Linked DNA regions of Homo sapiens: regions 2, 3, 4 and 5 are each linked to region 1. The links come from fine-mapping of genetic effects on gene expression. A gene starts in region 1. Each other region holds a variant in brackets. All regions are shown on one strand. Distances are between the middles of the regions.

Region 1 (6,329 bases):
ACCGATCTAAAGAATAAGTTTTAGAGAATTCCACTTACTAGAAGTATGAGCCTAGACAAGTTATTTCATTTCCCTTAGCTTCTATTTGGCAGGGAGAGGACAGGGGATTAATAATACCTACCTCATAAAGCATACTTGGTGAGTGGGACAACATGAAAAGCCCCTTATACAGGATCTGACACTTAACAGACAATAAATATTAACACTCTTCCCCTCTGGGTCCTTTTTTCTTTCTACTACTCTATATAACCTCCTTGTTAAAAAATACAAACACAATAACCAACCCAAATTGATATTTTCCTCATGATAGTCTATACGATGTAATTTTCATTTTGTTCTTACTAATTAATTCAAATACTTGCATCTCTCTTCCAAAGTTTCTACTTAAGAATAATGAAATGAAGAATGAATGTGAGGGAAGATATCTCTAATGAAATGAAAGAGTCTAATAAATTTCCCCTCCTCTTTTTCCCCATTCATGCAAAAGATAAGAAATTATGCTGTTCCTAGACAATGGTACTTTCATATCAATAAAGAAGATTCTACGGTATTTCTACATTATATCCTATCTCATCATCTATACTACTCATTAAATATTAAATGAAGAGATAACACCTCCTTCCTACAGTGCTTTCCTGGCAAACAATAAAAAGGATTTTCAGAATGCTAAGCCAAACTTCAAGGCTTCACAGCTTATTCTAGTAAACTGGCAAATTTAACAAATCTGGATTATAGTACATAAAAAACTTCATAACATGCAATAACCCAGGAAAACAACAAAATTCAACTCAGTTAGTAAACTTCTACCAATAACTAAATTTTACATAGGAGCAACAATTCATATTTAGCCACAATAACCATTCCTAGGGAGTTGATCAATTTTGCATTCTAACTAAGAATTTAGGCAAAACTTTAAAACATTTGCCCCTAAACATACACCAAACAAGATTTCCACGTTTCTGGAAAACTTTTCTTGTTTAAAAGTGGCCATATTAACTCTCAAGCGGGGGGCAGAAGTACTCTCAATAACAAACCTCCTTGCAATTTTCTGCTAGTCTCTTACTTTGCTCCTTAAAGACAACTTACTAAAAACCATGATCACTGATCCCGCTTTTAGAGTTTGTAAGTCATAAATAAATACTAAACAGATAACAATGGATACTGTACTGTACACCTCAATTATGTTTAACAGACAAAACTATTTTAAAAATACAAATCACAGTTTAATAACAACCTAACGAAGTCATACAAGTTAAAAAAAAAAGCTGAAAAGTTTTTATTACCATCTCACGTAAATTGTATTACTATCCCACTTTATTATACTTTTTTTTTAAAGTTAGGCATCTATGCTCAAACTGATTAAATCGAGTATGAGAGATCTATACTTTTTTTAAAAGTCCTTCAACAATAATGAAGTGTACACTGGTCACAGAATAGTTCAAATGAAATTTCCTGAGGCTGCATTCTAAGTACATCCGACCCAGAAAGTATTTTTAGCAAGTACGTTCAATCAATGCTGGTTTTATGCCTAGCCTAAATTAGAAATTGGGTGTTATAAATTTAAAGTAACAATGTTACTAGGGACATTTTAAAAGATATTTAATTAGAACATAAGAAAAAAACACAAGTTTGACTCAATTCAATACCTACAGCTCTGAAGCTAAGATGTTAGAAAATGGGCAGTAAGAAAAATCACATCCTCGTCTATTACTACTTTTGAGGAACTCGTGATTTTCTAACTTAATAAACATGGACCTACTCAATTAATATTTTTAAAAACTACAAAATAGTGGTGCCTCCTTGGATTTTAAAAACCTCTTGCCAAATTTTTAAAACAGACTGGCAACATGACAAACATTCCCATGTACAAAATAGACTGTTTCTCTTATAAATCACTGAAGATTATGATACTATGGGACCGTGCGTGTTTCAATGCAAAATGTAACAAAGATATGTGTACCATAAAAAATGCGAAGAGACATAAAAATTGCTTTTGTGGTAATTGGAGCATAAATTTATTCTAACAAAAAAACAGTGATGTCCACAAAATGATCACACTTACGAGCTAGTGAAGAGGTTCTGTAGAATACACAAACTTCTGCTTACGAGTTTTTTCTTTAAAAGAAAGCTGAATTTATATTAGTCAAATTCAAGATTTAGATGATATACCTAGCTCTATTCCATTAAGCACAGTTTAGGCTCTGAACAATCCTTTATTTTAAGGCCATCTCCTTCCCCCTTAAAATTGAAAAAAAATTTTTTTCCTCTGGCACGTTAAAGTTCAGAAAACCAAGATTTAAAAATGCCCTGGCTTTTACTGTTCCAGTCTTCTTTCTACTCTAATTGTCTTTTGCAAGTCGGACACATTGGCCTTTTATCTTTCTCCATAAATATGTTTTAAATGTGACCAATCAGCTGTACTGTTTCAACTGGGCCCAAGATCTGGACACAGAAACTTAGTATTACTGAAACCTCTTATTCGAAAAGCAGCTGGCATATTGCAGATGCATAACAAGTTATCCTAGAACAGGCGTTTTGAAAAATCCTACAAATCGTCCTTGTACATACTGATGTCACTACATGATGCAAGCCCAGACATAAAATCTTCCACCCTAAGTTTTGCAGAAACATCCACACATCACCTGTGCAACTGTAAGCTGTTCCATTTTATGGAAACCCTGCGAAATGCATCACTGTTTACCCACATCTCAACTTTTTTTTTTTTTTTTTTTTTGGCTCAACTACAGATTCCCAAATACAGGTATATACTGGTAGAATCATAACAGGCTTAAAACTTCAATGGTAGGAATAGTTGGCTCATGCAGCGTGCAAGAAGCGCTCATATGAGCCAAAAAAAAAAAAAAAAAAAAAAGGAATTCTACCAGCAATGGAAAACTCAAGATTCCAAAGCTTTACCTAGAGTTTAGGTACTGGGAACATTCCATCTCCGCACCTATTCCATCCCTTGGCCCTTCGCTGACCCATAACAGAGATTCCAACTATAACCCCCGCAAAAGCAGAGGTCCCAGGAAGAAAGGAAAGAAAGCGTTTTTTTGTTTGTTTGTTTGTTTGTTTTTGTCCTTTTTTCCTTCCTTTCAAATCATCCTCGTACCTCCGGCTTGCCCCACCTGGCTCACCTCCCAGGAGCCACACATGCAGGTAAGAGCCTCCCGTTCAACGTGCAGGGCCGAGAGGCCGGCGGGGACCGGAGAACCTCTTACCTTCGTATATCACAGCCGCGTCCTCTCGGCTGGAGAAAAAAAGCCTCGAGGCCCCGGCGCGCAGAGGAGAAGCGCGTCCTCCGTGCCGCTCCGGGGGGCTACCTCAGCGCCCCCCGAGCAGCCGCCGCCGCAGCGGTCGCGCCACGACCCGGAGCCGCCAGCACCACCTCATGCTGCTGGGCAGCCGCGGGCCGGCGCCGCTGGGGAGGTGGCAGGGAGGCGGGCAGCCGGCGACCTCTCCTACCTCCCTGCAGGGATGAGATAATCCACACCCCCAAAAGTGCGTGGGGGAGGGGGCCTGGCCCCAATCCTCCGACCCCGCGGCCAAAGCCAAGTCTCTTTCCTCTCCCGCTCAGGCCCAATTCCGGCCCCTGGGACCCAGGAGTCCTGAGAGAACAATGTTGGTGGTGGGGCGCGAGGAGCGGAAAAGCGCACTGCGCGGCGTGAGCTGGCGGGTAATCCTGGGCAGCGTTTGTGTGTGAGAGTGCAAGAGGAGCTCAGTCACCCCCCTCCTTCTCCACCTCCTCTTCCTCCCCCTCCTCCTCCTCTATCTCTTCCTCCTCCCTCAAGCACACCCCCTCTCCTAGGCCGCAGCATAGCAACCGAACATGGCGGCTGCGCAGGCGCCGCCAGTCAGTGGCCAGGAGCGGCGGCGGCAGCAACAGGAGGCGATCTCGCGAGAGGCGAGGCCAAAACCCTGCCTCGCTAGCGCAGGGAGAAGTCGCACCAGTCGGAGCGCAGAGGGACACGCAGGTGCGAGAGAGAGCGGCCTAGGAGGATTGGGAGGGCGGATTGGAGGGGGGAGGCGGAGCGCTGTGGCCCCCGCCCCGCAGCCGCGTCGCGATTGGTTGTTTGGACTGCGACCCCTGCTGCACCCACTGACCGCAGGGACCGGATAGTGGGCAAGAAGCGTGTGTTAAAAGGGAAAACCAGACCAGTTGGCAGCAGGTCGCCCCAACCTCAGTGCTCCTGGAGGATATAGGTTTTGGGGGGCAGTTTTGAATCATTTCCTCTCCTAAACGTAGGCTCCAAAACAAAGCCTCAGCAACCAACCTGCGTTTATAAAACAAACGTTCGGGGGCTCCTTCTGTGTGCCTGGAACGGTGTGCTTTTTAAAATTTAATTCCTTCTAATAACATGAATTTGGTGTTATCACGCCAGGGTTTTTAGCCAGGTGCATTATAATATTTTATTGGTGATACAAACTTATTGGTAATACCACAGTTGCCTACTGGCGAATGATCTCAGCTGAAATGGAGGAAGAAGGGATTTGGGGACCGCCACACTTCCTTTTTGCCCAATTTTTGTTAGTGCCCTTTTCTGTCGCCAGGCGCCTTCTTTGTCCTTCCTTGCTCTTAGCTTGAGCATCCTATCAGAGCCTACCTTTATAAAGACGATCTTTCAAAAACCACTTTCCCAAGCCGACAAAATGACTACAAATCAGGGGAATGTGAACAAATCTGGAAAAGACAGAAATTTCTATTGACTCTCTTCTCCCTCACACCTGTTAGTTTTTCCATTTGAAAAAGGCAACTTGTCAATCCATGTTTCCAGCTTTACTTCCTTCACTTGCTTTTCTTCCCAGATCTCTGTTGTAGCCAGTGCTCATTCATTCCTCCCTAAATATGCATTCCTGCCTCTGACTCTCCATTTTGTCTTTGATCATGCCATTCCCTCTGCTAAAATGCTCTTCACCTCATTGTCATCTGTCAACATCCAGTCATCCTCCAACCAAAGATCATATGAGACTTCCACCAGAAATTGAATGTTTCATATAAATAGAATCATACAATATGTAATTTTTGTTTAGAGGCAAGGTCTCGCTATGTTGTCAGGCTGGTCTCCAACTCCTGGGCTCAAGAGATCATCTTACCTTAACCTTCGGAGTAGCTGGGATTACACATGTGAGCCACATGGCTTACATGTAGTCTTGTGTCTGGTGTTAAGCAAGACACAAAAGTTCCTGAGTGGAACTTCCCCTGCAAGTCACCAGGATGGACCCTTTGAAGTTACCAATACTCACCATTATTCCTTGAAAAATCTGAGTTCACCTTAAATCTACCTGCCTGCAACCCTGGAAAGAGAAGAAGCAATTATTGTCCTTAAAAAAAAGAGAGAGAGAGCTTTAGACTGTGCCCCAGGCTCACATGGGCCCACTGAAAATTGAATTGGGAAATAATAAATTAGTATATCTCACACTTTAATATACATGCTGATCACCTGGAGTTCTTATTAAATGGCATGGTCTAATCCATTAGGTCTAGAGTGGGCCCTGAAATTCTGCATTTCTTTCTTTTTTTTTTTTTTTCAATAGAGACAGGCTCTCACTGTGTTGCCCAGGCTGATCTTGAACCCTCCTGACCTCAAGCAATCTTCCTGCCTTGGCCTCCCAAAGTGCTAGGATCACAGGAGTGAGCCACTGCACCTGGCCTAGAGACTCTTTCTAACAAGCTCCCTGGCTTTTGGACCACCCTGGAGTAGCAGGGGTGTAGACTACTGTTCCTTAAACTGGAGTCTAAGAAAAAATATATGCAAATTATCTATAAAATATGTAAATATTTTGCTCTTACTTAAATTATGTTCTTTTAAAAGTTAATATATTCTAGTCACTATATTGGATCATTTGATGACCACCTTGTAACGAAACCCTGCACTTGATTTTGTATTTGGCACCAACCACAAATTTAATTTTCTGGGGCTAATGGGAAAAGAATAGAATACTTCTTGTGGAAAGGACAGCATTCTGGCTAAGTGAAGGTCATACGTCCTTTACGGCACACTGCACAGAAGTTTAACAGAAATTCAAATAGAGAAGAATGTTGAGATAATTAAGTCAATTATAAGCATGCCAAACAAAAAAGTACATACCATAGCAGTGAGTTCCATATTCTCATATCAAAGGACAATTTAATTTCAGCAAAACAACAAATATAATTCACCACACATTACATACATCATATTAATTGAATTTTTTAAATTTGTGAATTTAATTTCTAAAATTGTTTTAGTTTTATAGACGTGAGCTATAAGAATAAGAAATTATTACCTAAAGTTTATGTATAATTAAGAGACATAATTAAAATGACTTAACAGTTGGAAGTTAGCAAG
Region 2 (6,329 bases), 160 kb before region 1:
TCAGTCAAAAGAGTATTTCAACATTTTAAGTATGACAACAGTTCCAGTATTCTCCACCACTGCTTATTATGAAGGGAAAAAAAGTTTATTTAGTGCATACTCATTAGGGACAGGACTGTGTCCAGTTAACATTTTTACTTCATTTCCTACTTCATTCCTACTTCATTTACAAGATGTCTAACCACTTGGATGATTAAAAAGTGCTTTGGATAAGTTTTAAAGTTCTCCCATTCCTACTTCATTTACAAGATGTCTAACCACTTTGATGATTAAAAAGTGCTTTGGATATGTTTTAAAGTTCTTAAGGACTACAAACGCAAAGCTTAACTTTTTAAAACTATAAATATACACAATTATGTATATACAATTTAATGTGCGAGCTGTCATAGGCCCAGTCCTGTCCTGTGCCCTATGTTTTGCAGGGGCTATGATAAACAAATTCCATTTTCTAGATTATTTTGCCTTAGGTTCTGCTTTTAGAAGGTACTGGTGGAAGATCAGAAAGTGGAGAAAGGCAGAGCAGGAAACTGGCAGCTGCTGGCAGCTGCTTTAATAGTCATGGGGATAGGGTATAGTGAGAAAGAGCATCCTGTAGATGGTCCCATCCTTGATTAAAGCAGTACTTCTCTGCAAGATGCAGACTGATTTTTCTTCACTGGAAAATTAATGTATCAGTCAGAGTTCAGTCAGGGAAACAGAGCTCTAACAGTGTAGTAGCAGGTGTAGTTTGTGGACTCCAGCCCAGGGAGTCCTGAATGCATCTGAATTTTAGGCATTACCCCTTCTTCTTGTTTTTTTCTCCATAACCATGTTTCCACCCTTTTGTTTTCCCAGCATTTCCAACAACCATGTAACTAATTTCCTCAATTAAATTGCTTTTGTTTGAAATACCAAAAGGGCTTTCTGCTTCCCTGACTGAACTCTGACTGATACCTTAATTTTCCAGTGAAGAAGATTCAAATGGGATACTATTACTCAAAAGGCTGGAGTAACAAGTTAAATTTCATAATAAAGAAACAATTTTTTTTAAAATTAATGAAAGAAAGGCTTATATTTCATATTGTCCATAATACAGACATTAGGGATTTAGTATTATCATTACAACAAAATGAAAAACTGTTCCAGTTTCAGAACACTAAACTTTCACAGTAAGATACTTATCTTTTGAGCAATGAGAAAGTTCTCTCTCTTTCTCTCTCTCTTTATATATAGGCTTATTATAAGTTATTCAAGCAACATAGAAAAATATAAAAAGAACAAAAAAATTGTTTTTACCCACAGTCCTATCCATAAAGAAATCATCACCATTATGAGCAGGTAAAAATCATTCTGAAATTCATGTATATAAACATTAAAAAGGCTAGACATACAGGCACAATAATTTTATTACAATGAAACTATGGTATATATGCCACTTTTAACGAAAAAAATTAAACTGGTTTCCAGTGAAATAAAAGATAAAAAAGACTGCCATTCATATTAAAAAAAAGGAAAAAAGATGAAGAAAACCTTAAGAACTGCTGTGTTAATGTCTAAAATTGTTTCAAACTTTAAGGATTCAAATACTTCCTCCCACTAGTCCCTTGCTTTTTTTTTTTTTTTTTTTTGAGACGGAGTCTCACTCTGTCGCCCAGGCTGGAGTGCAGTGGCTCCATCTCGGCTCACTGCAAGCTCTGCCTCCTGGGTTCACGCCATTCTTCTGCCTCAGCCTCCCGAGTAACTGGGACTACAGGTGCCCACCACTACGCCCGGCTAATTTTTTGTATTTTTAGTAGAGACAGGGTTTCACCGCATTAGCCAAGATGGTCTCGATCTGCTGACCTCGTGATCCGCCCGCCTCGACCTCCCAAAGTGCTGGGATTACAGGCGTGAGCCACCGTGCCCAGCCTCATTTTTTTAAAGTTATATTACTTATTCTACTTTGGCAAAGTTTATACCATTTAAATTTTATTCTGCAGTTATAATTCTCACGGTTGTCAAGAATTGTTTCTATATAGAGAGGATTTAATCTTCACTCTCAGGGCTTTTTATATAAAAATAACTTTTTATACCTGATAAAAAGTTATTTTTTTATACCTGATAAAAAGTTATTTTTTTAATCAGGATTATTCTGATTTATCTCCTGGTTTGCTGAATTTTACTACTTAATAAATGTTTTCAGGAAGGTCCTGGAGATGTTATATTCTCTGAGTTTTTGCATATTGGATAATGTCTATATGTTGACTTTGGACTTGAATGGCAATGTGATCATGTTTAATATTTTTTGGTCATGTTTTTGTCTTTAGGACTTGGTTGACAAAGGATGGCCCACAAGTAACATAAGCCTGAAGATACAAGTTTTATTTGGAATACATACTGTTTGTTGTTGTTTAGAGACAGGGTCTTGCTCTGTCACCCAGGCTGAAGTGCAGTGGCCTGATCATAGTCCTGTAACTTTTAACTCCTGGCCTCAAGTGATCCTCCTCCCTGAGCCTCCTGAGTAGTTAGGACTACAGGTGTGTGCCAAAAGCCCAGCTAGTTTTTAAACTTTTGGTAGAGACAGGGGTCTGCCTATGTTGCCCAGGCTGGACTTGAACTCCTGGCCTCAAACAATCCTCCCACCTTGGTCTCCCACAACACTGAGATTACAGGCCCCCATGCCTGGCCTACATTATTTTAAAATATTTAATTCAAACTGATAAACCACTAGCAGACTAATCAAGGAAAAAAGAAGACACAAGTTACCAAGAATGAGAGAAGCAACATTATTACATATTCTAGAGAGATTAAAAAGAAATGGGGAATATTATAAACTCTGTGCCAATAAATTCAACAACCTAGATGAAATGGATAAATTTGCTGACAGACAGAAACTACCATATCTTGCTCAGGAAGAAAGACAAAACCTTAATTGCCTTATCTATTAAAGAATTTGAATGTTCAAAACCTTCCTATAAGTAAGACTTCTGCCCCAGATGAATTAATTTGCAAATTCTATGAAACATTTAAAAATGAGATAATATTATTACTATGCAGCCTCTTCCAGAAAATGGAACTTTCTCAACACATTCATGATTCCAATTTGACCCTGACACAATAAAATCTGAAAATGATATCGTACG[A/G]AAGAAAACTACAGAGATATATCCCTCATAAACACATATGCAAAAATCCTAAACAAAATTTAGCAAAGTGAATCAAACAATATATATAAAGGATATCATGGCTAAGTGGGGTTTATCCTAGGAATGTAGGGCTGGCTTAACACTTGAAATGCAATCAAAGTAATTCATCATACTAACATCAGATTTTAAAGTTTGAATATGATCATTTCTTATGTGTCAATTATACTTCAATAAAGCTGTTAAAATAATTGTTCAACTTTCTAAAATGTACATATCCCATTTAATAGTCCTTAATCCCAGTTTTGTCGAAAAACATGTAAAATTTGTCAATACTAGGCCAATCTTCCCCAAGGGCAGTAACAGCCTTCTGAATGGCAGGTGTTGCTCCCTTCCCGGCCGATCTTTTTTTTTTTTTTTTTTTTTTAAATCAGATTGTCCTTGAACTTGCTTTTATTAATATTTATGGTACAAATTTCCTTCTGTTTCAGTGATGATTTCCTCCCAAACAGGTTTCTTCAACTGTCTTTTGTATTTGAAGTCACCGTATGTAAATTTTATGTTTGCTTTGGTATGGTTTGGGTAACTTCCTTGACTTTCTTTTCTCATCTTGTCTGAGACTTGCTTGAATTATAGTTGAAGACTGGTTATTGGTCCTACTCATTTCTTTGTACCTAAATTAAATGGTGTGTGTTTATGTCACATTTGCAAGGACAAAGAGGAGAAAAAAGAATTTGAACAGAGGGTAAGAGTAGTCCTTGTATAACTACCCTGGTAACCAATCAGAAATTAAATTCATTGAAAGAATATCTTTAGGGTTTGTACTGTTCTCATTTCACATAAAGCCGTGGAGATTTCTTCTGTCCTTGCTGAGATTTATTAACAGTAGGTAAGGCTCTTTGCTTTTTCCTTGACTTTCATTATAGATCTGATACTCTCTCCTTCCATCTATTTGCTTTTAAATTTGCAAGTACTGTCATCTTACTTTACTCAAAATTGCTTTTAGGAAGGCAAAAAAAAAAAAAGGAGTTAAACGTGACAGCAAACTGCTTAGGAAATTACTGTGCCTTTTGTTTGGTTAAAAATATTCTAATTCTGTTTAATTGTTACTACTGAACTTTTGAGCCACTTTTACTAATTTTTCTGGGGTGGGAGTCATGTATTTCAAGTGACATATCCTGTACTAAGCTTCATACTGTTATTTTTACGGAGATTACAAATTAGGCAATTATACATGTTTAGGTTTACAATTTAAATCTTTTCTGGGAACATCTAAACATTTTTCTCATGAACATATAACATGAATTAATCTTAACACATAATGGTCAAGGGTTTTTCATTTTATTTTATTTTTATTTTTGAGATGGAGTCTTGCTCTGTCACCCAGGCTGGAGTGCAATGGCGAGATGTCGGCTCATGAAACCCCTGCCTCCTGGGTTCAAGCAATTCTCGTGCCTCAGCCTCCCAAGTAGCTGGGATTACAAGCGCCCACCACCACAGCCAGCTAATTTTTTGTTTTTTGTTTTTGGTAGAGACGGGGTTTCACCATGTTGGCCAGGCTGGTCTTGAACTCCTGACCTCTGGTGATCCGCCTGCCTCGGCCTCCCAAAGAGCTGGGATTACAGGTGTGAGCCATTGCGACTGGCCAAGGGTTTTATTTATCAAAGATGAAAAATCTTATTATGTGAAGCATAAACAAACAAGAATGAATAACATTTGTTTTACTAAAAGATAATGAATAACTTTCTACATGATTCTTACCAGGTTCCACTTAAAAACTAGCTTGCATGGGTCTTTTAAGAATTCCAAAGGTAAAACTAATCAGAGCTTCTTCAGATTTAGTTATTCCCCAAAGATTTGTTGCCGTCAGGAAAAAATAAAAGCTATCAAGAATAAAACAATTTTAGGAAATGGAACCTGGGGTTACTGTTCAATGACTAAATCTGATTTTGCCTCGTGACTGTTTTAAACACTTTACAATAAAGGGTTTGACAACCCAAAAATATGCTAAATTCTAAATTAAAAAACAATAATTATATAGTTTTAGGCATAAGATACCTTGGGTGTCTTAGAACAAAGAAAAGTTTTCAAGCAAATATCTAATAAAGACACAATAGAAATTATGTCATCTGTCTTTATTGTAAATAAGTAAATGTAGTTAATTTACTCCAGAAAATAATGACAGCAAATACAGAACACAGAACTGGTTTCTCAAGCCTGTAGCATATCACAAGAACCTATAGAACTTTTTAATGATACTGATATAGAGGCTGCAATCCATAGGGATTTTTGACTCAGTTAAGTTTGTGTAACAAAGGTTGTATGGTTCCATAAACTACATCTTTATTTTAAAGAAAGGAAACAAAATCCAACAATAAAGCCTTAACACAGAAGCAATACTTACCAGTACCGGAATTTTGAACCTAATGTAAAATAATGTGCAAAAAAATTCTTTTGAGGTGGAAGTGGTCTGTCCAAACGGAAGAATGTGTGATGTTCTACACATGCTTTCCACAAATTTTTACATGCTCTGTAATTCACCATATTAAATCCCAATAATGTTTCTCTAGATTCATGCTGTAATAAATGACAAAATGCAGAGAATACCAGGAAAATGTCAGGATCTAATGCTCCATTTAATTTACTTTTGACAGATAAATTATTCTAGCCTTGTAAACATGAACTTGTTAATGATATAGATAGAACCTATGGGATCTTTTATCTAGGATCTTTTTTGCTTATCCAATAAAAAGGCAATGAAGTATATGCAAAAGCCTGAAAAATCTGGACCTAACTCAGTCTTTTTTTTTTTTTTTTTTTTTGAGACACAGTCTCACTCTGTCATCCATGCTGGAGTGCAGTGGCACGATCTTGGCTCACTGCAACCTCCACCTCATGGGTTCAAGTGATTCTTGTGCCTCAGCCTCCCGAGCAGCAGGAATTAAAGGCATGCACCACCACACCCAGCTAACTTTTTCTATGTTTAGTAGAGACGGGGTTTCACCATGGTGGCCAGGCTGGTCTTGAACTCCTGACCTCAAGTGATCTACCTGCCTTGGCCTCACAAAGTGCTGGGATTATATCATGAGCCCCCGTGCTGGCCTTGTTCATTCATATTATAACTCTTAGGAACTTTAACCTTAGATCATAGTTAGAAATGAGTTCAAACTTTTAATATGTATCTGTTTTCAACATTAGCTATGACTCTGTTTCAAAATATAATTCTAGGCC
Region 3 (6,329 bases), 170 kb before region 1:
ATAATGCTCTGGAGCAACAAAAATCATGTTTCACCAAAAGAATTCAATTTTTGCGTATCTTTGTCTTCAGGCATAAAAATATACAGCCAATAATTAGAAATTAGCAAAATTCACACCTGATGTTGGTCACAAAATTCACACTTACTGATTAGGAGTTCCCGGTGGAGATCGTGATGGAAGACTTTGTGTTTCTAACCTGTCATCAGATATTGAATTTCTGCTTACTACTTCCCAATCCATTAATTTCCGTGCCAAGGGCTTACTTGGGGATCTGCAGAAATAAATTAAATAATATGTTAAAAGTTTTATTTTTATACCCCAAACCATGAATCAAATCCTACAATTTGTTTTCAGAGATTATGTTCTAGATGAGCAACATAAAGAGTTTACTTGTAAAAAATTAATGCATTTAGAGGCTATTTACCAAATAACTTCCTAAGAATGTACATTGGCTTTATATGAAGAATAAAGGTAAGACAGGCTAGGAAGAGTAAGATAGACAATAAGAAGGATGAGAAAAACAGAAGAAACAAGAAAAGGAAGGACAAAGGTAAAAAGGGAAGGGTTTGCTACCAAATGTTTTCTCAGATGTTACTGACAAGACAGATACTACCTACTTCTATTCCAGAGTATCTGGAACACTAGCTTATCTTGGGATGTATTAAATAACTCCTCGCACATTATCTCCTGAATGCTTCTATAACTAAATCCCAATCCTCTGCCTCAATGAAGACAGAACAAAAATAATTATGCATATTACATTTTATCTACTTAAAAAATTGTTTACATATAGTAGGTTAGTGGATTTTTCCCTTTTTTCCAAAAACATTTTGGAGGGTTAATAATTCTGTCTATTGGTGGGGAGTAAAAGGATATGTTTTGTTACCAATCTATATATTATCAGCTATCCTAATGATAAAGATGAAAACTAAGTGATGTTTTAAAAAAAGATCTTGGATGCGCGAGGTGGCTCAGTGCTGCAATCCCAGCACTTTGGGAGGCCCAGGTGGGAGGATCACTGGAACTTAGGAATTCAAGACCAGCTTGGGCAACATAAGGAGACTCTGTCTCTACAAAAAATAAATTAGCTGGGTATGATGGCAAGTGCCTGTAGTCCAAGCTACTTGGGAGGCTGAAGTCAGAGGATCAACTTGAGTCCAGGAATTTGAGACTGCAGTGAGCTGTGATAGCACCACTGCATTCCAACCTGGGTGACAAGAGTAAAACCCTGTCTCAAAAAAAAAAAAAAAAAAAAAAAAAAGAAAGAAAGAAAGAAAGATCTTCATATTGATTCATTCAGATCAAAAGATACTGATCTATGCAGAGATCATAAACCCTTAGAATTTTAGGAATGTTAACAAATAAAGTATTTTTTATATGCAAATTCAGATAATAGACAAAATTAGCTGAAAATATATGTTATTTCTTTAAATGCCTGGCTTTATGAAGTGCAGAGTTAATGTGGAGGCGAATAATTTAAGCTACATATATAAAGTATATAATAAATCATCTTGTAAACAGTTTTATATTTCAGTAATTAACTGAAGCATATAAAAACTATATGTATTTTCCATTCCAGCACAATTTACAAAAAATGAAACATCCTGTTGTCTTCCTACAAAAATCAGATCATAAAAATTTAGGTAGAAATACCTATTTGAGTAAAATTTAAAAATGAAGACTATTTTTGGTTATAGTTAATAAGAATCATAGGCCTTTGTTGTGTGACTTTGGATTTATTTTCAGATTTTCTTATATTGATAAAGAATTGCAGGTAGTATTGGACTTGCTTTTTTAGCTCATTGGGATATTTTTCTCTCATCATGTACTATGTATACACTTCTGTATGGCTAAAAAAAAAAAAACAATTACCAAGGAAGGCACAAAGCAAATGCAATATTAACTCATCTGATTACATTAAAACTTAATAACATTAGAATTCTGATACATAATGATCTCATGAAGTTTGAAGTTTCACTGCCTGCTAGAATTTCCTTTCCAATATGTTAAACGTGTAAAAAGAAATGTCGGACTAACACGCACAATAACACTGACCAAAGAGAACTGAACAAATTGTTATTATGTGTACAGTAGGAAGCATTAAAATAATGATAAGGACTCTGAATTCTAGATGTGGCTTCCTATTAGACAGACCTCTTATGTTTCTGTATCTAAATGTATAAATTTATTAGCATAATATGACCCATAGGTCTCTCCCTACCTCCTGAATTTTATGATTTATGAATATCCAAATTTTCAGGGCAATATTTTAGCCTATTAATTTTACTAAACCACGAAAAATTTAAGTTACTTATGAATCTACACCACAGAAGTGTCCTGTCATTTCAGCAATTCATAGCTAAAACTTTTTTAGTTTGGCCTAATGACATTTCCTTAATCAAAAATCTTGTAGGCATTTTATAAGACATGGAATGTTATTAGTTTTAAAAAAGATACATTGACTCAGATTTCATTTTCCGTAAGTGAATTCAAAGTAATTTAGGTGTGAACATTTCCCATTATCACAGGTTTAAATTATAGGATTTTTTGATTTGAAGACAACTCATGACACCGTTTAGTTCAACTCCCTCATATTGCAGTGCAAATTTTCTTATCAGTCACAACAGAATGAAAATAAAGTATATTACCTCATGCATAAAACTTTGATTTTTAAAATAAAGATTAACATTTATGGCTCTATTAATGCTAATTCATAATGTAATAAACTATTATTTCCTCAAATATTAAACTACGAAATGTAAGCTGTATGAAAGTTCACTAACTGTAATCAATAGATCAACTACTTTCAT[T/C]TTCTAAAAGCTGGAAAAAGTCATTTGAAGAAAAAAAATTCCAGCACACTCACCTAGTCTGAAGCGTCAGAACACTTTATTGCTGTTAATGGACTAAACATGGCTGGACACTTTGAACTTAAAACCAAACTTCATGTATTTTATTTTATTAACAGTTTTAACCTCAGGGACCCACCCACTCAAGCTTGCTGTCTATGTTTCCTGTTGAGTGTGGAAATTTCAGAGAAAAAAATACCACACAGCATCAGTGTGTTTGCGATGTGGTAAGCTTCTTTTCTGTCTAGGGCACCTTATTTTTCTGTTGTATGAGAACATTGTTTTTCTCTTTTCTTAGATATATTATATGACAACTGCAAAATGTGAAAGCAATTTGAAGAGGTGATAATCAGTATATGTGCTGCTGAGGCGAACACAAAGAGGTGATAATCAGAAAAAAGAAAAAACATTTAATGATTGCTAAAAAATTATTATATGAGAAGTTTAAGGAGGAGCCTTTTCTATCTACTCATATTGCCAACTAAAACCCAAAGAAAAAAAAAGAACTCTAGGTTATCTGGTACTTTAATAAAATAACTTAATAATTACTAAAACCATTAGAGAATTTTGGTAGACATATATCTGTTCATTACAATTAGATCCTAACATATTAGAAAAACAATCCCAGAAAAGCTTATCTTTCAGAGAAAGAGAGATCATTAAACAGCCCAGTACTATTACAACCTCATTGTAGCTGATACCTTATTATTTCAGAGGAACCACACAATTCCAGAAAAACAAAAGGAAGAGAGTTATCTGAGGCTTATAATATTGAAATTTTACCTCTACTATTCACGGAATCATGGCTATTTGTTTTATAAAATAACCTATTAAACAACTATACATTTTAATAATGAATACACAAAATGAACAACTAAGATGCAGGTATAACTCTGCTTATTTCTAAAATCTGATAGGATCAAAACATGAAAACATTAACACTTATAAAGAAACCATTTGTATGTGATATTAACTTAATACATAAATATGCCTACGATCTGGTACTCGTATGAGGATATGCTGCATACAACTAGTGACCACATCGCACGTTCTACACTGTTTATAAAAGTCAAGCAGAAAGAAGACACTTGTTAAGAAAGGAAAGTTTTAAGTATATTGCTACGCTGTTACAACACTAAGAATCAGAAAAATATTTTAAGAAATGTTATTCGTTTTTTAAAAAATACATGGACTCATTTCATTTTCCATAAGTGAATTCAAAGTAATTTAGGTGTGAAGATTTTCCATTATCACAGGTTTAAATTATAGGATTTTTTGATTAGAAGACAACTCATGACACCGTTTGGTCCAACCCCCTCATATTGCAGTGCAAATTTTCCTATCAGTCACAACAGAATGAAAATAAAGTATATTATCTCATGCATTTGATTTTTAAAATAAAGATTAACTTACCATTTATGGCTCTTCTATTAATGTTAATTCATAATGTAATAAACTATTATTTCCTCATATAGTAGACTACTAAATGTAAGCTGTATGTCACATATTACTGTGACATCCTTACAAAGTCTTAGCAACAACTCCTACTCTGGAGGCAGGGACGTGGCTCAGTAAAGGGAGGAATCCTAAAAGTTAAGTTTACAGTTTACAATCAAAGAATTTAACTGTTAAAAGATTTATTGCCATTATAAATGACTAGATTTTTGAACAGCAAAGAAAATGTGCACGATATGCTAGATGATAAAAACAAACAACAAATAGTTTAAAACAATTTGGAAACAAATATACACACATATATAAAAATGTCTCTATGAGTATATGCATAGAAAAATCCTGAATAATGAGTATCAAAATTTTTTTAAAAAGTTGTCTTGGGATGATAAATTTTCTTTATGCTCTTTGATACTGTTGGAGTTTTTAAACATAATGAGCTATCACTTATATTACTAGGGGAAAAAAGCAATTTCCACTTTTGGAAGGAGGAAGAAAAAAACCAAGAACACAAAACTCCCTTTACTCCAGAAACACAAAGAAGGAAGGTCTCTTAGATAAAGACTTAAGAACAAAATTTAAACAAAGTGAAATCAAAAGCAAACTTTCTAGTTCTCTTTATTAAAACTCAAGCCTCTAATAGCAGTAGATGCCAAACACATAACTAATTAAAAGACTTAGCCTCTCAAAGTAATTTTCACTGAAAACAAACTCTTGTCTCTAACACACCTGTATCCAGTTGGTCATCAGCTTCTGCTAGTTCTGCCTACAAAACGTTCCTTAAATTTGTTCCCTATTTTCCATTCCATTACCAATGTTTTTGTTCAGGCCTTTATTATTTTCACTTGGATTACTGCAATTACCTTATAGTTTCTGGGTACCGAGGCTTTCCTCGCTAATCCATTCTCTATCATTGCTCATAATACTATTTTCTAAAACATAGATCTTATCATGTCATTTCACTTGTTAAAAAGCAAATTGGCTAGGTCGGGAGTGGTGGCTCATGCCTGTAATGCCAGCACTTTGGGAGGCCAAGGTGGGGGGGATCACCTGAGGTCACGAGTTCGAGACTAGCCTGGCTGACATGGTAAACCCCATCTCTACTAAAAATACAAAAATATTAGCCAGGTGTGGTGGCATGCGTAATCCCAGCTACTAGGGAGGCTGAGGCAGGAGAATCACTTGAACCCAGAAGGCAGAGGTTGCAGTGAGCTGAAATTGCACCACTGCACTCCAGCCTGGATGACAGGGTAAGACTCCGTCTCAAAAAAAAAAAAAAAAAAGCAAATTGGCTATGACAGACCCTAAAGAAATAAAGACAATAAATGGTAAACAAAAACAAAAAATAAAACAACTTATCTCTTAACATTATAATTTAAATAAATATGGAAATGGCTTGATAACATGAAATAAGTCACTATATTTCTCAAAAATGTTTAAAAAAGTGGAGCAACCTCGAACAGAATATTATATTAATAACATAATATTTGATCAGCCTATTCAGAACTGCAATGCCTGGCACACTATTAATATAAAAAATGAATCAATAAACTAGACAAGCTAGTTTATCATTCCCTCAACATTATTTACTGTTAAAGAATTGTGATAATTCTGTAATCAAAAATTTGAAATATTTAGAAAAACTTTAGAAAAAATATTTAGAAAAACTTTTTAGTAAACTCAATCCATCTTTTTAAAAAAATTCAAACAATGAAACAGATTTGGCTTACCTTGCAAATACCCTGTCTTTATTTGCCTTTTCTTTGCCATACTGAACTGATTGGACTTCAGTTCTCCCACTGAAATATATAAATATGCACAACAATAAAGTCTTAAGAGAACTATAAGATAAAATGACAACACATAACATGATTATAGTGTAACTTCCTAAGAGACAAGACATTTCTAGCAGAGAAAAGGAAGCAGAGAATAAAAAGACTGGACAACATTCCAATTCTACCTGGATGAATGAAGCTTAGTTACATTTCTCCCATTAATGAAGAAAGATGTGTTCAACTCCCTCCATGTCCA
Region 4 (5,694 bases), 330 kb after region 1:
TCTATACAATGGGCAGAACGGTGTCTACTAGGTCAGTGTTGTGGCTGAGCGTTTGTACACGAAGTCAACGGGCCTCTCTAATCCTGGAGACAGTCCAGCGGATAGACTCTGCAGCGGGCGAGTTGCGCGGAAAGGAAGTTCGCCCGCTGGGCAGCGGTACCGCCACCCACTGACTTCCCTTTGGGGAGCAGCAGGCCCGAGGGAGCGGGTAGGAATGTGTAGGTTCTTAGCCAACATAAACATCGTGCACTACGCTAAGGAGAAGCCAAATCTTCGGAGACACGGGCTTCTTCCCTCGCCAGAGCCTTTCCCTGAGGTGTCCGCGCGACTCAGCAAGTCCACCCCCAGCCCAGCACCCCAAACGCAGCTTTGGGGAGGGAGACGGTCTTCCTAACCTCCACCCCCAGAAAGGTCTAACTTCCCAAGAGACGCATCCTCTGTTACATAAGCCTCACTTTGCAAGTCGATTCTGTCCCTCCACCCCAGACGCGCCTCATTTCTCACAAAGGGGGACCCTTATGGTAAACTGACCAGTAAGTCACTGGTGACACCAAAGAGAAGAAAAATCTTTCCAAATGAAGTTTGGGAGCCTCGGGTGCTTGCAAGGCCGCGAGCAGAAGCAGCCGGAGTCCGCGCCTCGGGAGCAGCTATGTGAGGCAGGCAGGCCCCCCGAGGTTGCTCCCCGCCCAGCCTCCTCCGGACCCAGGTTTGCAACAGGGGGCGGGCACGGGGGGCGCTCGCACCCCCAGCCCGACGCCGGCGCTCGCGGTGGGTACGCCCCTCCCTCCGTCCTCCCACCCCCAACCTCCCACGGCGGGGCAGCACCCCGGGTCAGCGCCCCGCCAGGCGCCGGCTACCTGCACGCCGACGGCAGTCATGCTGCGCCCGGCGGCCGCGCTGCAGCCTCGATCGCTCCAGCTGCTCCGCTGTGGCCGCCGGCGCCAGCCCGGGACTTCTCCGCAGGGGCGGGGCGGCTGCTGGAGGCGGGCGGGGCGGGAGGGGGCGTTCAAAGCTCGGCGATTAACCCCGGGCGGGCTCCGCCAACCCCGCCGCCCTCCGCGGCTCGGATTACGCTGAGTCAGCGAGGGCGGCCGGAGGAGCCCCTGGGGAGCCGCGGGGAGGACCCGGCACTTGGGGGGAGGGATCCCTCGGGTCCCAGGGGAAAGGATCGGGAAGTCACTCCGACGCTCCCGAACCTCCGAGGACAGCTTCGCCTGGGGCGCAGATTCCTCGAGGGCTGGGACGGCGACGAGGGCCTGAGGGTTCGATTCCTGTTCCAGCTTGCTGAGTCCAGCCTCTGGGAACGCGGCAGGGTCCGAAGGGAGGAGGCAGGCGCAGAGGCTCTGCTGCCCTCACTCTGCGGTGTGACCTTGGGCTGCTTGTTTAGCGTCTCGGAGCCTCGGTTAGTAAGGGAAATAATGAATGTGAAAGGTGGGGCTCTTGCCGGGCCCTCGCTGAGTGTGAACGGAGTGGAACTTTTTGGGGCAATCCTACTTGCGTCCCTAAAAGGGGATGTAAAACCCTGTTTCCTCCTGAACTCCTCAGGGACTATTAAAAATGCAAATATGCCAAACAAATGTGGTTATTTTTTCTCCACCTCGATGGGAACTGAGGTCTCTCTTTTTTTTTTTCTGGACGTTGTCTAGCGCTTGTGGCCCAGGCTGGAGTGCAATGACGCGATCACGGCTCACTGCAACCTTCGCCTCCTGGGTTCAAACCCGTTCAAGCGATTCTCCTGCCTCAGCCTCCCGAGTAGCTGGGATTACAAGCGCGCCCCATCAAGCCCTGCTAATTTTTGTATTTTTTAGCAGAGACGGGGGTTTCACCATTTTGGTCAGGCTGGTCTCGAACTCCTGACCTCAGGTGATCCACCGATCTCGGCCTTCCAAAGTGCTAGGATTACAGGCATGAGCCACCGCATCCGGCCGGATCTGAGTTCTTAAAGAGGCAGCACCTAAAAGCTTTTACCGCCAAAAAGGGTGGAGGTGGGAGGAGTGTCCAAGGGCCACAAATTCCAACAGAAAGGCTTCCCTCCCCCCATCCTCAAATGTGGTGGTAAAACAAGGCCCCTCACTAAATGGCACACATTAAATTGTCTGGTTCACTCAGGCAGGCAGCTCCTGGTGACTTTACCCAAAGACAAAGCAACTGCACTCATCTGTTTTCCCCTTTAGAGCCATGTGAGAAAGAGGGGTAGTTACAATTGTCTGTATATCTTCCACTTAGATATTCATCTGATTCCATCCCTGCCCAACAGACCTTGTCAAATCCTTTACCCCAGTCCTGGAGCTTGACAAACGGAGAAATGGCCCAGGCACAGGAAGGCTTGGCCCAGGCCACCCACATTGAGTCCACTGGAGAGCTGGGACTCCACTTACCCAGCAGGCCTAGTCCAGGTTTGAGTTCTTGCCACCATTCTGCACCAGAGTCACCTGGAAGGTTTGTTAAAACAGATTGCGAGGCCCCACTGCAGAGTTTCTGGCTGAGTGGCCTCAAGTGATGTTGGTGCTGCTGGCCTGGGGGCCAGGCTTTGAGAACCACTGAGCTAAGGCAAAGGGCAGCTGCCCAGGCTCAGCCAGCCTGGTGCCTCTCTGCTCTGGGG[C/A]CTTCCCTCCGTGGCCCCCACCTGCTTTCTCCCCAGTCAAGGGTCCCAGAAGCCAGACTCTCCGCAGCTCTGGGTTCTGGATAAAGAGCCCACATGGGAAAGGAAGACCTGTCCTGTTGCGGGGGTATCCTTTCACTGAGCCCTAAGAATGCCCTGTGGGCTCTCCCAGGTGAGATTCTGGATCATAGCATCTCACCTGGCCAAGAGGGAAGTGCCTGGAATTAAAATCAGAAGAACAGTCAGGTCGGGTCATCTGCACCCACTGCCTTCTCCAGTTTCGTGTGTGGTCAGGCATGTTTCTCACAGCCTGTTACGCTTTGTTGGTAAGAATAGAAAAGTATTGAATCAGTAGAATTTAGAGCAACATGTCTTGTCAGCAAGATAGTTGGAGAAGCAGAAATGACTTAAGAATAATAAGGAGGAAGTGACTATCCAGTTCTGATCATCTTATGCTCACATGAGGACTGGGAATATGGCCAGAATTTGGGTGGAATCTGAGCTGAGACTCTAAGACCTGGAGTCTCCTGGTACCTCTCTGGCTTAGGGGGTTGGGGTGGTGCGGGGAGTGGCAGCATCCACAGCCCTCTCAAATCCTGGTGAGATAGCCAGAGGTATTGGGGTCAGAAGTCCCAAAGCATGGCGCTTTGACATACACAACTGAAAAAGCCTCAAGGTCTCTCTGACCTTCCCTCCCCTCACCGTCTCTCCCAAAACACAGGATGAAACTGAAGTTCCTTTATCTGCCTAACATCCAGACCCACCAAAAGGAACAATTGTGTTTCTTCTCCTCCCTGTAGGACTGAGAATGTGACCACACCCGGCAAGTTAATCTCTATTCCCTGATCCATTCGGCTAGCCCCTCTACAGAATTCGTCTTCTCTCCTCTCCCATCACCTGTTCTGCCAGGATAGTATAGAAGCTTCTGAGCACTGCTGAGGGGTGGGCATACTCCGTGATTCTCCCGGGGTGTACACCTTGAATTAATGTATATACCTTTTCTCCATTTAATGTGCCTTTTGTGAGTTTATTTTTCATTGAAACTTCAGAGGGTGAAGAAGCTTTCCCTTAAACCCTGCAGAGACAAATACCGCACCAGGAGAAGAATGTCCAGAGAAGCAGGGAGTTTTAGTGTGAGGGGAAACATGGCAGGGGCAGAGGTGGGGGTTGGATTACCGGGTGGACCCCCAGGTGTTAAAAGCAGAAACAGCATGGGCATGAGTACTGGGCTGTGGGACAGCATGGAGCCTGCCTATTCTTTGACTTTCTCTGCCCTTTGTCCAGATTGTGACAGACTCGGCACTTGACCCTCCCTGACCCCTGCTTCTAGGCCTGGCCAGGGCTGGGGAAAGAGGAATGGCTTAAAGAAAGGCAGGAAGTGGCTCCTTCCCACCCCTCTGACCACTCTTGCCTGATGAGGAAGATCCAGGCATGTTCCTTAGAGAGTTTCAAGTGTATTGGTAGGGACACAATTCCTGATCATTCAGTCAACAAGCACTAGATCTGTTGTTCAGTCAGCAAACACTCTTTCATCTCGGGGCCTTTGTACTTGCTGCTTCTTCTGCCTGAAATGTTCTTCCTCCAGATACTCCCATTTAAGACTCACCAGCTCACTTCTTTAAAGTCTGGGCTCAGATGTCACCTTATCAGAGAGGCCTACGACGACCCCCACATCTAAAACAGCCCCTCCATTCTCTTTTCTCTTCTGCCCACATACACATATTTACTTGTCCTCTCTCCCCCTTTTAATGTAAGCTCCAAGAGGCCAAGGGCATTGTCCTGTTCACCAGTGTATCGCTGGTGCCTACGACAGAGCCAGGCATGTAGTAGGTTCTCAATAAATATTCATTGACTAAATGAATGAAGTGATTGAATACCTACTATGTAGTCACAACTGTCCTGACCAATGAGGGACAAAGAAGAAAAAGACAAAGTCCCTGTCAATGGTAAAGTGCTTGAGTTTTAGAGTCCAAACCTACCTCTCCATTTCTGCTCTCTCCCAGGCCTCGGTAGTTCAGGCTCCACATCCTCCTGCTCTCTTTGCCCTCACGCCCTCCATATACTCCATCCTCTCCTCTCTGCCCCTCCAGTGCCTGCCCGGCTTCAGCCCACCCCAGATCCCCTCCTCTCTAGCCTGGATGCCTGTGGAACAGCCTTCACTCTCACTTCCTCTGTCCCTTCAAGCATCTTCCCATCCCTCTTTTCCAAGGCTCAGGAAGCTTTGGTTCCTGGCCCCCCAGCCCCCGACCTTCCTGCCAAGACCTTCCCCTGGGTGTCTGCAGGGCCTTTTCAGGGGCATCTCCTGACTTTCCCAGCCAGAGTAACACTCCACCCCCCACTTGCCACTCTTTTACCTTTGTAAATTCTTGATCACTAGCTGAAAGTGGCTATTTGTCTATTTCCTGGATTGTCCCTTTCCCTCTCTAAAATATCATGGGCTCCATGAGAGCTGGGACTTTTTCCCTCTTTCACCACTCCATGCCCAGTCCCTAAATACAGGTTGGTCAATAAGGTTTGCTTACAGAAGAACCAGGCTTCTAATGCATTCTGAGCAAATACTTCCCCTCTGTGCTCCTCACTTTTCTGTCAAATGGGAAGCATCTCCCTCCTGGTGTTGAGAGGATCCCATGAAGCAATGAATGTGCATAAGGTGTCAGGTGCACCATCCCGGCTGGCATATGCATAAGTCTAAATAACTCATGATCTTTACCATCCAGTTTCCAGGGGGCTCTAAGTTTGCGCGGTCCCTGCTCCCAGGGAAACTTAGATCTGAGAGGCGACTCCCCTGTGCGGAGATTTAGTCTTGGGGGTAGTTCCCAGTGCTGGAAGTTTCTCTTTTGAGGAGTTGGAAGGTGGGAGGGACGAGGTGGGGCAGACACACTCCAAACACCCAGAGGTAATAGCAGGGAGTTGGCAAGGAGCAGCCCCTTGAAGCTCACTGGGTAGCTTTAAAGCTGCATGGTGCCAGGATGACCCACCCTCCCTGCCGCCCGTGCCTTGTACTTCTGACCTCTCCAGGTCTTGCCTTGTCTGTGGCCCATGGCCTCTTCCCTCTCCTCTCCTCCTGCTGCCCCGCCTTTACCAACCAGGTCTTC
Region 5 (6,329 bases), 22 kb after region 1:
GTGAGCCATGATCACACCACTGCACTCCAGCCTGGGTGACAGGAGTGAGACCCTACCTCAAAACAATAATAATAATAATAATACTGTGTCATGGGATTCAAGTCTCCATAAGGGTCAATTGATATTCTCTTCTTGAAAACCTGTAGTAAATAAATCCCAAACCCAAGGTAACCATTTGGTAAATGAAACGTCTGTGCTTTCCTAGCTTCTCTGGGATTTGGGAGCACCTGAAGGGTTGCGATAGCTCCATCCATAGCCTACTCAACCACCATTATGTTGGCCCTTTCTTCTTGCTAACAGAACCCAGTGTTGTTGATGTGGCCATTTGCCCAGCACCACAGTACACACTGTGCTTGTTGTAAGACAATCAACACAATGTGGTTTCTCTTTGCCAGTGACTGGTCTAGGGGTGTGTGCGACCCAGTCCTAGCCAATGGGATGTTGGAGGACATTTTCTGAGGACTTCTTGAAAAGAATCCTCCCTCTTCCTCCCAATCACCTCATTCCCTCACTATAAAAAGAGAGAAAAGTGAGGAGAAAGCTTTTTTCCACCTATCCCTTTCCATTCTGTTTAGGGCATAAAAATAATTGTAAGGAAATTCAACAAAGTTCTTTTTCCAGCAATGATTCCCTTGATGCAGTCTTAGAAAAATCAATTTTAAAATTATTTCAGAAGCAAATTTTTAGGTGCTCTTGCTTTGCAGGTATCCTAAGCAGACATTTATTTAGCTTATTAGACACTCTAACGCTGACCTTGAGCAAATTTCTTAACTTGTATGAGCCTCAGTTTCCTCCTTGATAACCTGGGGAATGAGAATAGCTACCACATGGGCCTGTTGTGGGAACTGAGATGGGACGTGCAAAGTGCCTAGCATAGCAATGATAGTGCTTGACTCCTATTTTCCTGTGAGTTCTTTTTTTTCCTTTGAGATGGAGTCTCACTCTGTTGCCAGGCTAGAGTGCAGTGGCGCAATCTCAGCTCACTGCAACCTCCACCTCCTGGGTTCAAGTAATTCTCCTGCCTCAGCCTCCCAAGTAGCTGGGATTACAGGCATGCACCACCATGCCTGGCTAATTTTTTTGTATTTTTAGTAGAGACAGGGTTTCACCATATTGGCCAGGCTAGTCTTGAACTCCTGACCTCAGGTGATCCACCCACATCGGCCTCCCAAAGTGCTGGGATTATAGGCATGAGCCACCGCGCCCGGCCTTCCTGTGGGTTCTTTACACACACCCTCACTAGGAAAGACTAGGAATGGCCAGGGCTACCAGTAAATTACTGATAGCCAGTGACCTCCCCAAGGGACCCTAGAACCCAGGATCCCACTTTCCACACCTGCAGGTCACCCGTTGGCTGCCAGATCCATGTCAGGTTCCTTTGAGTTCAGCTGCAGCCTGCTGACTTGGGCACTTCCCCCAACAGCCTGCTTGGCTGACCACATCCCCCAGATGGTTCCAAACTGTCAGCCTTTTGAGCCCACAGACACGGTGCCCAGACCTTGTGTCCCCTCCCTGCACCAGTGCCTGTGGTGCCCAGTTTCTCCAGCCCTTGCCAGCCTGTTCCCAGCTTCTGGCCCTGCCTGCTGCATGGTCAGCAGAATTCTCCTGGGCCTCATCCTAGACCTGTGTTACAGCAGGTGACAGACAGTCAGTCCCACTCTCTAATAAGCCACAAAATAAACCTTGTGTCCAGAAGGCAACATCTACCTAATCTATACCCTTAGCTACTTTGCTGTCCCTTGAGGGAAGAGGACAGGTGCCTCTGTCTGACGTCTGTGTCTCTGTCTTTCATCCTCAGCTTAGAGACACAGTGCTGAGTAATGAGAGTTTGTGCTGGGGCTAAGACAACAACAAAAATCCCAGCTTCAGCACTTTATTACAGTGCTGAATTACTTAATTCAAGTGAGCTATTTAACCCTTTAAATCATTACAACATCAATAACAATAGCACCTAATATTTATTGGTTGCATATTTGTCTGCTAAATGCTTTGAGAGGCATTCTCTCAATCTTCTCTGTTACTATGAGAGAGGTTTCATTGTTCTCTCCACTTTAAAGAGGAGGGACCCGAGACACAGAGAGTTAAGTAACTTGCCTGAAGTCACTACTGCTGAGTAGAGGAGCTAGATTTGCCTGATTCTGGAGCCCAGACTCCCTGGGACTCAACTTCCTCATCTGTGAAATGTGGACATTAAAAATGACTTCACAGGACTGAGCAAGAATAAGAGACATCACTTCTACAGGGTCCCTACTAGATGCTCAGCAATGCTAGGGGAGCAATGCCCGGCTCCCCTAGCTATCATAGAGGACTCAACTTCCTCATCTGTGAAATGTGGACAGTAAAAATGACTTCACAGGACTGAGCAAGAATAAGAGACATCACTTCTACAGGGTCCCTACTAGATGCTTAGCAATGCTAGGGGAGCAATGCTCGGCTCCCCTAGCTATCCTAAAGGAGTCAACATGAGCCATTGAGATGTTGGCTCTCAGTAAAGATTTGTCCCCACGGCAGACATTTCCTAAGATGAACTGATTTGCAATGGGAATTGCAGCTGATGATCTGGAAGGCCTTCATCAGCCCTTCTGAAAGAGATCTTGCGGA[T/C]GCCAGCTCCTTTTCAACTCAGTACATGGAACATGCAGACACCAGCCCTGCTGCTGAGAACAATGTCTGTCAGAAACATGCTTTCCCTGAGAGGACAACCATTATTAGTGGGGTAGGACACAGACTCTTTTTTGAGACAGAGTCTTGCTCTGTTGCCCAGGCTGGAGTGCAGTGGCGCCATCTCAGCTCACTGCAAGCTCCGCCTCCCGGGTTCACACCATTCTGCTGCCTTAGCCTCCCGAGTAGCTGGGACTACAGGCGCCCACCACCATGCCCGGCTAATTTTTTGTATTTCTTAATAGAGACGGGGTTTCACAGTGTTAGCCAGGATGGTCTCGATCTCCTGACCTCGTGATCCGCCCGCCTGGGCCTCCCAAAGTGCTGGGATTACAGGTGTGAGCCACCGTGCCCTGCCAGGACACTGACTCTTTAGCCAGGTCTATGGGGATGAGGGGAATGTAGATACCAGTTGTGTGTGAAGCTCCTCAGAATTGACTCAAGTGTATCATTTAGAACTGTACAGAAAAATTACTTTTTTGAGAAAGACTCAAAATTACTAAAATGGAACTTCTTTCTTTCCAAAATGTGAGAGCAAAGTACTGTCAGACCGACCTCCACCCTGGTTTTCCCCACCCTCTCTTAACATCATTTAGAGGTTTGTTTTTTACTCTTCCTTCCCCCATTCATGTCTTTCCTGGCTCTTTTGGGAATAACGTAATTTGGAGTGGGATGTTTTTTCTTTCCCTTTTGGTCTGTGCAAGTGGTCTGCGGGTTTATTTTATTCCAGATGTTTCTCCCCAACCTGCCTTTTGAAAGAAACCCAGAATTATTTTTAAACAGAATTTGGAGGCTTCCAAATACAACAAATATTCAAACTGCCTGTGGGTTCCTACATTACAAGTCCTTGCTTTGTGGTGGGGAGAACAGAGGCTATGGAGCCAATGGTTCTGGGGACATAGGGGGCCTCGGAGGCCTGCTCCGTGGGCCTGAACTGCCTTCTCTTGCTTTCTCTTCTCCGCTTCCTGGGCATCAACCCAAGTGCCCTCTGGCTGCCCCCTGAGATGCCTACCTGAGGAACCCACTTCTATCCCAGGAAACACACTGCTTAGCTCTTCTGCTGAATTTTGCCAGCACCTCTTTCTCCCCAGAAGCTAACCTGACAGAGAGATTCATATTAAGATAACACCATAACACTTCATACATTACCTCCTTTCCCACTTCCTACATTACCAGGGACCCTCAATGCCTTGACCCGGTGGTTTTCAACTCTGGCCGCACACTAGAATCATCAGAAGAACTTACTGAGATATGGATGTTTGAGCCCCACCCACCCAGGTCTGAGGGCTAATGCTCTGGAAACTGGAAACCGGATTAAAAAAAATAGTTTCTACTTTTAATTATAAAGGTAACCTGTATTCATCGTTCTTGTTATTGCCATTAAGGTAAACATTACAGAAATGTTTTAAGCAAAAAGCAAAAATATCCCCTCCCTCCTTGATATTCCAGTCCTGCTCTTCAGGAGCAAACACTGTTAATGGTTTCATGTGTCTCCTTTTGGAAGTTGTCTATGTATTTTGCTAAATCATATATGTTTATTTTTTACACCTATGTGATCAAATTATCACACTTTTGCATCCCCAATGAACCTTGGAGAACTTTCCACATCACTACAAACTGAGCGATCTCATTCTCCCTGAGGCTTACATCACTTTGCTGCTGTGGGGGGCCACAGCTCTCTGATTGACTAGGAAGCTCAGGCTGCTGGGGAGGATCGGCTGGAGAGGAGGCCCCTTCACAGGGGAAGGTGGTCAGCTGTCTCTAACATCTCCCCTAACTTCCAGAGCCTCTTAAGAAAATGCATTTTGGAGAAGGAAAGCTTTTCCCTAAATTGTACTCAGAGTGTAGGCTGATTGTGTGAAAATGCCTCGATAGAAACTTTAGGTCTTCTGTTGAATTTCTTCAGCATCCCTTTTCCCTAGGGGCTAATGGGAATGACTGTCTATAAGCTAAAACCATAGCACTGAGATAACGCCACAGCCTATCACTCCTCCCAGGTGATACATGTACGACAGCCTGTGTAAACTGCAGAAAAACACATACTTTGAAGAAGAACTTCAAGTACATCCTGGCCCTCAAATGCTTTATTTAAGTATGGGCCTCAGGAACACTCTAGAGGACCTTGGGAGGAGAGGTTTACCTGGATAGTTCCCCAGTAGAAACACAGGAAAGAGTGGGTATATCTCAGGGTGATGGTTTTGAGAATGAATCAGTGACTTCACAGAGATGACAAGACTGGCATAACATGCAATTTGATTTCTTACTTAAACTAATGTCTAGTTTCCCACTGTGTAAGAGCGGTTCCCCTCTGACTTTTTGGACTGTGTTCACCACCCTTTTCCGAAGGGTGAAGGTAAAGAGAAAGCCTCCCTGTAGTCTGGCTCTGTCACTGCCTTGCATGTGATGTTTCCTAAGTCTTGCAACCTAACTGGGAACCAGTCTCCTTATCTAGGAAATGAGGCCAGTACAATAGATGATTTTCTTTTATAAAACCCAGGCGGGTCTGAAGGTCAGATGATTTTTAAGGTCCTTCCTGGCTTTAAAATTCTAGGTTTCATGACTATGACCACCCACAAACCATACAGGAATTTTTTTTTTAAGCCACAGCTGAATTTAGTTCTTTGGAAAAGAGGCGGTGGAATCGCATTACCCAGCTGGGTGCTTCCTATTTAATCTGCTGTTTTCCTGACTCGTGTAGCTCTTTTCCTCCCAAAGCTTTCTGTGAGCCTGTAGCTTGACAGCATCTAGCCTTGATGGTTTGAGCTTTCTTTTTTCCGTGATTACCACCACCCTGCCACCTATCTCACTAGGATATCATCCAATTTAATGCATTGTAATAATAATTATGTCTTATATGTACATAAGCTTTAACAGTGCACCAAGAACGGTATTTTAGAAAGCACATGGGTTTTTTAGCAAGACATTGTCAGAGTTTGAATTCTGCCTTGTAGCAGCTGCAAATTTGGTTGCAAACACAAACTGTTTCTGGTTAACTTTAGCAGAGAAGGAATTTACGTGAGGAGCAGTGGGAAGCGCATGGCATCATGGGGCCGCTGGGAGGCCTTGGCGGGGGCAAGACGTAGAGGAGGACAGGCACAGTCCAGAGGCCACCTTGAGAGCCACCGACTTGGGAGGGGCACTTGTCACTGCTGTTCACAGCCACCTCATCTAATCCCTAAATGACCATGTGCTTTGGCTTGTCTGCCTAAAGGGTGAAACCTTTAAGCAACTAGAGAGCGGAAAGCTTCCCCTTCAGCTTGGTTTCTGTACTGGGCAATGGAATCTTCTGTAGCGGGCAAATGGAACACTTACCCTGATGTTCCTCCCAAATAAGAAGTACTGTATATCCACAAGTGGACATCCAATACAAAGAAAAAGAACCTTGATGCTAACCTGACATCATATACAAAGATTAACTCAGGTTGGACCATAGACCTAAATATAAGATTGAAAACTGCACAACTTCTGCAAGAAAGCATAGAATAAGTATACCTAGATGCTAAGCAGCCAGAATGACCAATGTCCACCACAGGGTTCCACCACCTACTACTACTAGCTGTGTGACTTGGTCAAATGAGGACAATCCCTGTCTCCAGGCAGCTGGGTGGATCCAGTGGCAACCTGAATAAACCCCTCAGCCTGGGCCCTGCCCTCTGCGTAGGGATGTTCTC

Alleles and levels. Positions count from the first base shown, and alleles are read on the strand shown. Sizes are in standard deviations (SD) of each study's normalised expression. Not every link is listed here.
For the expression in subcutaneous fat of the gene that starts at base 3,684 in region 1, allele C in region 4 goes with a lower level than allele A (large effect, 1.6 SD a copy in TwinsUK).
For the expression in CD4 T cells of the gene that starts at base 3,684 in region 1, T is the high allele of the variant in region 5 and C is the other (large effect, 1.0 SD a copy in CEDAR).

Evidence for each region. PIP is the estimated chance that this variant, and not a neighbour inherited with it, causes the effect.
Region 2: its variant is the best candidate, but not a certain one, in a credible set for the expression of PTPN4 in whole blood (INTERVAL, PIP 0.66).
Region 3: its variant is the best candidate, but not a certain one, in a credible set for the expression of PTPN4 in whole blood (INTERVAL, PIP 0.89).
Region 4: its variant is the best candidate, but not a certain one, in a credible set for the expression of PTPN4 in subcutaneous fat (TwinsUK, PIP 0.72).
Region 5: its variant is the best candidate, but not a certain one, in a credible set for the expression of PTPN4 in CD4 T cells (CEDAR, PIP 0.79).

The regions. Positions count from the first base shown.
Region 1 is chr2:119,757,277-119,763,605 of GRCh38, reverse strand. It overlaps PTPN4 (protein tyrosine phosphatase non-receptor type 4), which reads right to left and starts at 3,684. Exons shown (of 27, transcript NM_002830.4): 1 at 3,222-3,684. It overlaps LOC101927764 (a long non-coding RNA gene), which reads left to right and starts at 3,892. Exons shown (of 4, transcript XR_007087215.1): 1 at 3,892-3,974. RefSeq lists enhancers at 2,828-3,452, 3,723-3,982, 3,699-3,993 and silencers at 3,183-3,482, 4,033-4,142.
Region 2 is chr2:119,919,415-119,925,743 of GRCh38, reverse strand. It overlaps PTPN4 (protein tyrosine phosphatase non-receptor type 4), which reads right to left. Exons shown (of 27, transcript NM_002830.4): 12 at 5,503-5,675. Among named protein-coding and RNA genes, the nearest start is that of EPB41L5, 90 kb to the left of the region's middle. The variant A/G (reference allele first, on the strand shown) is at 3,102.
Region 3 is chr2:119,926,366-119,932,694 of GRCh38, reverse strand. It overlaps PTPN4 (protein tyrosine phosphatase non-receptor type 4), which reads right to left. Exons shown (of 27, transcript NM_002830.4): 13 at 6,029-6,097; 14 at 146-271. Among named protein-coding and RNA genes, the nearest start is that of EPB41L5, 84 kb to the left of the region's middle. The variant T/C (reference allele first, on the strand shown) is at 2,811.
Region 4 is chr2:119,427,088-119,432,781 of GRCh38, reverse strand. TMEM37 (transmembrane protein 37) reads right to left here and starts at 928. Exons shown (of 2, transcript NM_183240.3): 1 at 858-928. The coding sequence starts at 878. RefSeq lists an enhancer at 1-493 and a silencer at 777-1,156. The variant C/A (reference allele first, on the strand shown) is at 2,603.
Region 5 is chr2:119,735,216-119,741,544 of GRCh38, reverse strand. The region is part of intron 1 of LOC101927764 (a long non-coding RNA gene); the gene reads left to right. Among named protein-coding and RNA genes, the nearest start is that of PTPN4, 22 kb to the left of the region's middle. The variant T/C (reference allele first, on the strand shown) is at 2,602.